Linked DNA regions of Homo sapiens: region 1 is linked to region 2. The links come from fine-mapping of genetic effects on plasma protein levels. A gene starts in region 2. The other region holds a variant in brackets. All regions are shown on one strand. Distances are from middle to middle.

The links. PIP is the chance, under the fine-mapping model, that this variant and not a neighbour inherited with it causes the effect. Protein levels are from antibody-based Olink assays in UK Biobank. Linkage for the fine-mapping came from a reference panel and not from the study's own genotypes, which makes the PIPs less certain.
Region 1: its variant is fine-mapped to the plasma level of the CTSS protein (UK Biobank, PIP 0.97).

Annotation. Positions count from the first base shown.
Region 1 is chr1:150,713,426-150,718,814 of GRCh38, forward strand. It overlaps HORMAD1 (HORMA domain containing 1), which reads right to left. Exons shown (of 15, transcript NM_032132.5): 3 at 3,713-3,857; 4 at 1,190-1,253; 5 at 660-696. Among named protein-coding and RNA genes, the nearest start is that of HORMAD1, 4.8 kb to the right of the region's middle. The variant AAT/A (reference allele first, on the strand shown) is at 2,465.
Region 2 is chr1:150,763,320-150,768,708 of GRCh38, forward strand. CTSS (cathepsin S) reads right to left here and starts at 2,459. Exons shown (of 8, transcript NM_004079.5): 1 at 2,379-2,459; 2 at 1,319-1,445. The coding sequence starts at 1,444. RefSeq lists enhancers at 549-638, 1,350-1,399, 2,330-2,474, 2,333-2,477 and cis regulatory regions at 2,402, 2,405.

The DNA.
Region 1 (5,389 bases), 50 kb before region 2:
TTCTTGAGGCTGAGGCAGGAGAATGGCGTGAACCTGGGAGGCGGAGCTTGCAGTAAGCCGAGATGGTGCCACTGCATTCCAGCCTGAGCGACAGAGCAAGACTCCATCTCAAAAAAAAAAAAATTTCATCTTCTTCACAATTAGCCTAGTGCTGGACTTCATTATGCAAGTTGGTACTAAATTATACTAAGTATGCAAAAAGGATTACAATACATCTTAAAACCTTCTTAATTTTGCTAATTCAGAATTTGTGACAATTTAACCTAGATTATGTGGAAATTTATTTTTGAACCCTAATAAGGAAATAATTTATTAAATTATTAGTATAAACAAGCTTGTAGAAGGCATGTGAAACTAATGAATAAACTATTTGAAAAGACTCTTTAATTCATTAACTTTTTTGTAAGTTAACACGTGTTATTAATACAAATAAGTGTTAAAAAAACTAGCTTGGAAAAATTTGTTTAGTGTTAATTCCATTATCTTTAAATGAGTTGATGATTAGTCTTTAAAATATTCAAATGTTTAGGCTTTTCAGTAATTCAGACTGACCTACACTCAAGTTAGTTCAAATGAATGTTTTACTACATCATAACTCCAGTTATATTTGTAGATCATAAACTGTAGAAAAAAAAGGATAAAGAGATTGCAAGACTTACATATTTTTTCTGTAAAGCATCATAACATCCTAGCATCCTAAAAAAAAAATCAAGGATTCATTTTTAGACTGAATGCATTTCCAGAAAATAGTTATTTTCATAAATTTCCATATTATCTCATTACTAAATAATACAAAAATGTCTTATTAAAGCTCCCTTCTTATTAACTAGCTTAAAACAAGACAAAACATAAAAAACAATGTGGCAGAAATGTAAAATGATGATAGAGATGGAAGGGAAAATACAAAATATCTGACAGCTATTTGTGGGGAACAATAATAAAATAAATAAAGCCTGCTTGCATGGGGCACAAAATAAAGAAACATTTATTTTTAAAATTTATTTTTCCAAATACCCAGACTTCAAGGAGAGGAAAACTTCGGTGGAAAATTTAATGACCTACAAAAATGCTATCTAGCATTAAAGGGTGATTCACTAAAATTTGGTTAAACACCAAAGGTATCCAAGGTACAAAAAAAAGTAAAATGAGAAAAAAATAATTTTCTCTCTTTAGGTATTCTTTTACTTGCCATTTCACTAACTGTGTAGATCCTGGGCAATTTTTATCTTCTCTCAGTATTTTGACACAAAGATCTAAACACAAAAATGATGAAATATAGAGTTACTTAAGAAAAGTAAACAACTAGAAATTTTAAATGAAGTTTATTTTCTTCTGCTGTGTATTACAGGTAAATTATTATTATAATTATTATTATTTTGAGACAGGGTCTCACTCTATCACCCAGGATGGAGTGCGGTGACATGATCTCGGCTCACTGGAACTTCTGCCTTCCGAGTTCAAGCCATTCTCCCACCTCAGCCTCCCCAGTAGCTGGGACTTCAGGTGCGCCACCATGACCGGCTAATTTTTGTATTTTTTGGTAGAGACAGGGTTTCCTCATGTTGGGCAGACTAGTCTCGAACTCCTGACCTCAGGTGACCCGCCTGCCTCAACCTCCCAAAGTGCTGGGATTACAGGCGTGAGCCACCTTGCCCAGCACAGGTAAATTATTAATAGCAATAATTAATATTATTAATGTAATTAAAGGAAGAAAGGTTATATGAAAGTAGTATTTTAATATTTATTATAAGATGCCATCATAATAATTAGGATGCAAGCTGATGGGTACAAAAATATTTCATAAAAAACTTATAGAATCCATGAAATTAGATATGTTGCTTTCATGCCATTGTTATACAAGAATCTTAGAATCTTATCCCAGTAAAATACTTGTAAAGGCCAAGAACTTAACGGGCTATCAAAAACAAAGAGGCCTGCAAAGAAGCAACATGTAACACAGTGGAAAAGACTGAGAGTCTCTCATATCCTCAGGTACCTTAATTGAAAAACAGGTATTTGTAAGACTGCTACATGAATTAACAAGATATCGTATATAACATAGTGCTTAACATATTGCCCAGCACATAACTGGTGTACAATATTATGCATGTATAATGTACTGAGAAATAAGTTATTATTGTAGTATAAACTGGCTGTATTATTATTATTATTTTAATTTAAAAAATAGAGATGGAGTCTCCTTATGTTGACCAGGCTGGTCTTGAATTCCTGGCCTCAAGTGATCCTCCTGCCTCAGCCTCCCAAAGTGCTGGGATTACAGACGTGAGCTTCCACGCCTGGCCCTGGCTGTATTATTTTTACTTCCTTAAAATAGCACAAGAACATACACTACTACTGTATGTTTTCTATTGATTTCTTTCATCATTATAAGCATAATTTCAGGTAAAATTATACTTGAGAAACTGAGGAAAAATTTTATGATTAAGTGCTTCTAAAGGTATTG[AAT/A]ATATATATATATGTATATATTTTAAAACCATTTAGTTATCCAAACAAAAACAAAAACTTGTACATCAGTGCGGCATTATTCATAATAGCCAAAAAGAGAACCCAAATGTTCATCAACTAATAAAGGGATAAATAAAATGTGGTACAGCCATGCAATAGAACATTATTCAGCAACAAAAAGGGATGAAGCACTGATCCATGCTACAATACGGAGGAACCTTGAAAACATGCTAAGTGAAAGCCAGTCACAAAGGACCACTTTTTTTTTTTTTTTTTTTTTTTTTTTTTTTGAGACTGAGTCTTGCTCTGTTGCCAGGCTGGAGTGCAGTGGCACAATCTCGGCTCACTGCAACCTCCGCCTCCCGGGTTCAAGCGATTCTCCTGCTCAGCCTCCCAAGTAGCTGGGACTACAGGCATGCACCACCATGCCCGGCTAATTTTTGTATTTTTAGTAGAGACGGGGTTTCACCATGTTGGCCAGGATGGTCTCCATCTCTTGACTTTGTGATCCGCCCGCCTCGGCCTCCCAAAGTGCTGGGATTACAGGCGTGAGCCACTGCACCCGGCCAGGACCACATTTTATATTATTTCATTTATATGAAATGTCCAGAGTAAGTAAATCTGTACAGACAGAAAGTAGATTGGTGATTGCCTAGGACTGGGAAGGTTGAGGGGAAGTGCACAGTGCCTTAAGGGGTATGGAGTTTCTTCTTGGGATGAAGAAATGTTCTAAAATTGACTGTGGTGATGGTTGTACAAATCTGTTAATTTATTAAAAATCATTGAAATGGGCCGGGCGCGGTGGCTCACGCCTGTAATCACACCACTTTGGGAGGCCGAGGCGGGCAGATCACAAGGTGAGGAAATCGAGACCATCCTGGCTAACACGGTGAAACCCCGTCTCTACTAAAAATACAAAAAATTAGCCGGGCGTGGTGGCGGGCGCCTGTAGTCCCAGCTACTCGTGAGGCTGAAGCAGGAGAATGGCGTGAACCCAGGAGGTGGAGCTTGCAGTGAGCGGAGATGGCACCACTGCACTCCAGCCCGGGCGAGACCCCGTCTCAAAAAAAAAAAAAAAAAAAATCATTGAAATGTACACTTTAAACAAGTGAACTGTCAGGTACGTGAATTGTATTAATAAAGCTTCTATTAAAATAAAATTTCTAAGTCAAAAATTATAGTTTTGGAGCAAGCAAAAATAAAAATACCATTTTAAAAGAAAGCTTTAAAATAAATATTGTATTACCATCTAGATATCTTGTTCCATAAGCGCATTCTGGGAATATTCCCCTCAAATACGTGATACAGGATACTGAAACTGCTAGAAGCCTCTTCACTAACACCAAAGACTGGTGTTCAGTTGATATCTTATTGGGAAATACCAGTGCACTCTAAAATTCAAGGGAAAGTAGAACACTTTATTTAAATTTATTAAAAATAAAGTTTCTCTTGACTTAACATATATCCAATTTTGTATAATCATAGTACTCACCCCAAGAATTCCTCCCTATATTGGTTAGTAATCCCCCAAAAGTCAGAGCGGCATGTAAAATGTGAGGGTATTTCTAGGGTAATAGCCTAAAGGACATATGCAAAAAGTATCTAAAAATCTTTTAATTTTTTTTTTTTATTTTTAAAAAAATTGAGACAGGATCTCACTGTATTGCCCAGGCTGGAGTGCAGTGGCACAATCACAGCTGCCTACAACCTCCATTGGATGCAAGTTGATGGGCACAAAGTATTTCATTAAAAAAGTATAGGCCGGGTGCAGTGGCTCACGCCTGTAATCCCAGCACTTTGGGAGGCTGAGGCGGGTGGATCACAAGGTCAGGAGTTCAAGACCAGCCTGGCCAAATGGTGAAACCCTGTCTCTACTAAAAATACAAAAATTAGCTGGGCGTGGTGGCAGGCACCTGTAAACCCAGCTACTCTTGTAATCCCAGCACTTGGGAGGCTGAGGCAGGGAATTGCTTGAGCCCAGGAGGCAGAGGTTGCTGTGAGCCAAGATCGCACCACTGCACTCCAGCCTGAGTGACAAAGCGAGACTCCATCTCAAAAAAAAAGTATATAATCATTATATAATTCTTCAGATTATATTCAAATATATCAAATGCTTGTATTTTGAGGATGAATAAAACAAATGTTAATAGTGGCTGGTATTTTAAAAACACCTTTTTGGGACACCCATATAAAGTGTTTTTCAGTTTAATGGTTTTTAGTTTATTCACAGAGGTGTGTGTGCAACAATCACCACCAATTTCATAACATTTTCTTCATCCCAAAAAGGAAACCCATACCAATTAGCAATCACTCCCTGTCCCTTATCCCATCCCACGTCCTACCCATTAGCCTATCTGTCCCTATAAATTTGCCTATTCTAGACATTTCATATATCCTCGCACAACCTCTAAAGTAGCTGAGACTACAGGCGTTGCACCACCATGCCTGGCTAATTTTTTTTTTTTTTTTTTTTGTAGAGATGAGATCTCACTATGTTACCCAGGCTGACCTCAAACTCTTGCGCTCAAGCAATCCTCTCACCTCAGCCTCAGCTCAAAAAGTACCTAAAAATCTTAAGAATCCCCTTGCAGATTAACTGTCTGTAAATGCATAACACATGGATAGATTACATTGATTTTTCTCTTTGGTCACTGAGTAGGTATAACAGAGGTTAAGTGTAATGCAAAATCCTATACAAATATAGCAAATGCATATTTGTGTCTCGGTTACAAACATTCATTTTCTTTCTTTTTGAGACGGAGTCTCACTGTTACCCAGGCTGGAGTGCAGTGGTGTGATCTCGACTCACTGCAACCTCCCCCTTCTGAGTTCAAGCGATTCTCCTGCCTCAGCCACCTTCATAGCTGAGACTACAGGCGTGAGCCACCGTGCCCGGCCTCATTTTCTTATTTATTTAATTTTA
Region 2 (5,389 bases):
AAAGAGTACAGAGTTTCATTTGACAAGAAGACTACATTCTAGCAATCTATTGCATAGCATGGTGACTACAGATAATAATAATAATGTATTTTATATGTCAAAATTACTGAAAGGGTAGATTTTAAATGTTCTTATCACAATGAAAGGATAAGTATGTGAGGTGCTGAATAGGTTAATTAGCCTAATTTAATCATTCTGCAATGTATATTTGTATCATAACATCACATTGTACTCCATAAATAGACACAATTATTATTTAATTATAAATAAATAAAAATAAAACTTAGAGTGTATGACCTAAGAGTGTCATTTTTATACAAAATAATATGTCAAATAAATAAATATATGATGCTAGCTTACAAACAGAAATATTACATAGTTACAGGACTTAGTTATTTAAAGCAGTAGGGTTAAGGTCTTAACATCAGCAAGTGTGCTTTGAAATAAAAACAAAAGTACAAAATGGGAAGTGATAGTCAAGAAACAATATCTGGCCACACTATGTGGGTATTAACGCCTTTTCGCTCCTCAGCCATCCCAAATGTGGCCCTTCCTCAGGAGCTTGTGCTGATTTGCCCTTGGCCTGAGACCTTCACTCTATTATGTATTTTGCTTGCTCCCTGGCTTCCATCAATTCTCTGCTCAAATGGCACCCTTATCCGTGAGGCCTTCCCTAACCCTCCTGTCATATAGATAGACTTCTTACCACCACCACCACCCAGGGCCCTTCCTACTCTCCATGCCTTCTGTTATTTTTATCTACAACACTTATCACCATCTAGCATACTACATATCTGCTTGTTTATTTTCTTATTTCCTGTCTCTCTCACTATAATATAAGCTCCATAACAGGAATTTTGTTTTGATTCCTGCTGTATGGTACCAAGAACAGTATCTGGCAAGAAACAAGTACATAATATTTATTTATTTATTTTTGAGATGGAGTCTCACTCTGTCACCCAGGCTGGAATGCAATGGCACAATCTTGGCTCACTGCAACCTCCGCCTTCCCGGCTCAAGTGATTCTCTTGCCTCAGCCTCCCGAGTAGCTGGGATTACAGGCGCCCACCACCACATCCAGCTAATTTTTGTATTTTTAGTAGAGATGGGGTTTCGCCATGTTGGCTAGGCTGGTCTCGAACTCCTGACCTCAGGTGATCCGCTCACCTTGGCCTTCCAAAGGGCTAGGATTACAGGCGCGAGCCACCACACCCAGCTTAAATATTTACTGAAAACACTGCCTGTAAGAACACAATTTTAAGAGGTAGAAAACAGTACTCCTTTAAAAGCATATCGCTCGAGTGGCAATCCAATCTACCTTTTCCTTGTATTGTTTGCCATAGGTTTTCTTCCAGAGATGCCAGTGGTGATCCAGGGTAGGATCTTTATGCAACTGTGCCACTGCAGAGGAGCACACCAAGAGCACACAAACCAGCCGTTTCATTCTGTGTAAGGAAAGGTAACATAGGAAGTGTTGCTATTAGCTGCATATGTTGTGACCACATGTTTTCATAAGAGAAAATAACAATGCAAAGTCTATCAAAGGGACAGACTATTATAAACAGAATTATACAGGAAAATTCCTGGGATATATAGTCACAGGGAACAGCTGCAGATTTATGTCAGAAATACTACTTCCAATGCTTAGTAGCACTTTAAAAAGTGATTTCCAGGAATTTCCCAATATCTGGTAAACCAAACACATCTAGAGGGTTAGAAAACAGGGACTTTCCAGGATTTGCCAACAAATCTAATCAAAGGAAATCTCTTTCTCTCTCTCTCAAAAAAAAAAAAAAATCATCCTTAAGAGAGACAAACCTCTGAAAAATCAGTTTATCTCCTGAATTTTTGAATACATGGGCTCTTCTTAACTGACCTGTTTAAATATCCACAGTCTTTACAGATAGTTAAAAGACAATTCTCATCTATTGCTTTCACATCTTTAGGTAGGTAATTTTCCTTTTTACGTTTTTTTTTTTTTAATGATCAGACATCTGTTTCAAATGAGGCAATTAACTACTCTTTAAAATGCCACTTCTGTATTTAATTCAAGAGACATCAACAGAAATTCAGCGACTAGCTCCCTCAAACTGGATTCTACTTTCTTTTCCATTTCTTTTTAATTGAAAACATCTGGAATTTTAAACATGTAAGCCTTTAAATTATATTCCAAAGAAAGCCATGTTTCAGTCTCAACTTAGATGCTTAGATGCTCAAGCAGACATTAACTTTTTAAAAATAGAGAAGAGGCAAATTGAACGACACGATTTTTTAGTTTACTTCCTGAAACCAAAGATTTAAAACCTAGCAGGCAGAACAAGTTACAAACACAGAGTGTTTGAAGACCAAATGGGAGAAAAAGAACAAAGAGTACATACGTGATAGAACCAGCAGTTGCTCCCACAGTAAGAGTCCTTGAATTAGTGGGCTCTCTTCTAAGATTTCAAAGCAACAAGGAGATTTCAGTTCAATTGACTTGAAAAGAAATTGGAACTTGTCACATGAGGTACTCAAAATGAGGAAGTGAACTTTCATTTCAGTTTCATTTAAAATCTAGCTAGTACAGTCACCTCTAGTCATTTCCCTATGGTCTTGGGGACAAAGTGGATACAGTAAGCCATCAAGAAGAGCCCTTGTCTGAGCCCAGTGGCTCATGCCTATAATCCCAGCACTTTGGGAGGCTGAGGCGGGAGGATCACTTGAGGCCAGGAGTTCAAGACCAGCCTAGGCAATATAGTGAGACCCTGTCTCTGCAAAAAAATTTTTTTTAATTAGCTGGGCATGGTGGTGCATGCTTGTAGTCCCAGCTGAGGGGGAGGGTGAGGTGGGAGAATTGCTTGAGTCTAGGAGGACAAGGCTGCAGTGAGCCATGATTATGCCACTGTGTTTCAGCCTGGATGACATATCAAGACCCTATCTCAAAAAAAAAATTAAATTGAATTTTAAAAACACCAACTTTTACATGGAAAACATTTAGTTATAAAGAGATTTAGATAAAGCTCCCCAAATCCCAGCTCCTTGTATGATTTCCTAGGAAAACCTGTCTTACTGCTTTTAACACAACTCATTCATGATCTGATATTGTCTGGTTCTCACTCAGCCATTCCTTCGTTCATCAAACTCAAAATGTCTTTATTAATATATACTATATGTATAGTTTAGTAATATGCGTGTGTGTGTGTGTGTGTGTGTGTATGTGTTAGTATATTCATGGAAAAAAGGATACACTCAAATATATCCAATTGAGAATGATTACCTGGGTGGGGTGGGAGCAAGACGAACTATCATCTTTTAAATTTGCATTTTCCTAATTACTAATGAGGTTGAGGATCTTTTCACACATTTATTGACCGTTTGAATTTTCTGTGAATTTCCTGTTCATCTTTTTTGCTCATTTTTCTATTGTATTGTTGCATTTTCTTAGTGATTTGTGGGAGGTGTGTGTGTGTGTGTGTGTTGTGTGTTTTCCGAGACGGAGTCGTGCTTTGTCTCCCATGCTGGAGTGCATTGGTGCGATCTTGGCTCACTGCAACATCCACCTCCCAGGTTCAAGCGATTCTCTGCCTCAGACTCCCAAGTAGCTGGGATTACAGGCACCTGCCAGCATGTCCAGCTAATTTTTGTATTTTTAGTAGAGACAGGGTTTCACCATCTTGGCCAGGCTGGTCTTGAACTCTTCACCTCGTGATCCACCCGCCTCAGCCTCCCAAAGTGCTGGGATTACAGGTGTGAGCCACCGTGCCCGGCCAAGGTGTATGTGTTTTAAAAATATATTCTGGCTTCTAATCTTTGACAGTTATATACCCTTAAAAACATCCTCCCTTAGTCTTCCACTTGTCTTTTATTTTATTTTTTCTTCCTTTGCATAAGCCTATGAAATTCCACTTGTCCTTTAGTCTTGTTTATAGTGAGTTTTTCTATATGAAATTTTTTTATGTTGAGGTAGAACATTTTATTCAGCTTTTCCGTATAATCAATCTATACTGTTTTTGTATAAGAAAATTTTCCTCATCCAAATGTAATAAAGATACACTCATCTTATTTTTATACTTTCAGAGAGTGTTTTATTTATCTTTTCTATGGCTACTGCTTTTAGGTGTTTAATTCACCTGGAATTTAGTTTTGTGTATGGTATGACGTAGGGAGCTTATTTTCTTTGTTTTCCAATTTTGATTCTACCTCTATTGTACACCAAATTCTCATACATAGATAGGTCAGTTTCTGAGCTCATGAAGCTGTTCTTTTTATCTTTTGCTACTTCAGTATCACACAGTTTTAATTAAAACAGCTTTGTAATATGTCTCCACGTATGGTAAGGCAAGTCATCTAGGCCACCCTATCTTTGTTCTTCTTTTTAAACATTGTCTTTGTATTTTGTACTTGTTAACTCTTCTTTATATGAATTTTTTGAATCAGTTTATCAAGTTCCCTGAAAAACTCTGTTGGAGTTTTTTGCTTTTTTCTTTTGGAGACAGGGTTTCATTCTGTCACCCAGGCTGGAGTGCAGTGATGCAATCATGGCTCACTGCAGCCTTGACCTCCTGGGCTCAAGTGATCCTCCCGCCTCAGCCTCTGGAGTGGCTGGGACTACAGGTGCACACCACCATGCCTGGCTGATTTTGTTTTTTGTTTTTTGTAGATAAGGGGTTTCACCATGTTGCCCAGGCTGGCCTCAAACTCCTGGGCTCAAGCAATCTGCCCACCTTGGCCTCCTGAAGTGCTGGGATTACAGGCATGAGCCCCCACATCTGGCTATTAGAGTTTTTATTTGAATATATGCATAAATTTAGGGAGAAGTAACATCATTATAATGTTGATTCATCTCAGCTGTAGTAGACATGTTTGTGTTTGTAGCCATACAGTTTTTTTTAAAAAGATACTGCTTATGGAAAATTTAAAACACATGTAAAAGTAAAAATAGTAGTAAAATGAGCTGCCGTGAAACCATTGTCTTGTTTCAACAATGATCAGTACATGGCCAATCTTATTTTATTTATATTCCCACTCTCACTACCTGAATTATATTAAATAAATTCTAGACATTCTGTCATTTCATACGTAAATGTCCCTGTGTGTGTCTTTAAAAGACAGAGACTATTAAACAAATATAATACCACAATACCATCATCACATCTAAAATAAATGAACAATAATTTTCTTTTTTTTTTTTTTCTGAGACAGAGTCTCACTCACTTGCCCAGGCTGGAGTGCAGTGGTGTGATCCCAGCTCACTGCAATCTCTGCCTGCCGAGTTCAAGCGATTCTCCTGCCTCAGCCTCCCAAGTGGCTGGGATTACAGGCATGTGCCATCACACCCAGCTAATTTTTGTATTTTTAGTAGAGATGGGGTTTCACCACATTGGCCAGGCTTGTCTCGAACTCCTGACCA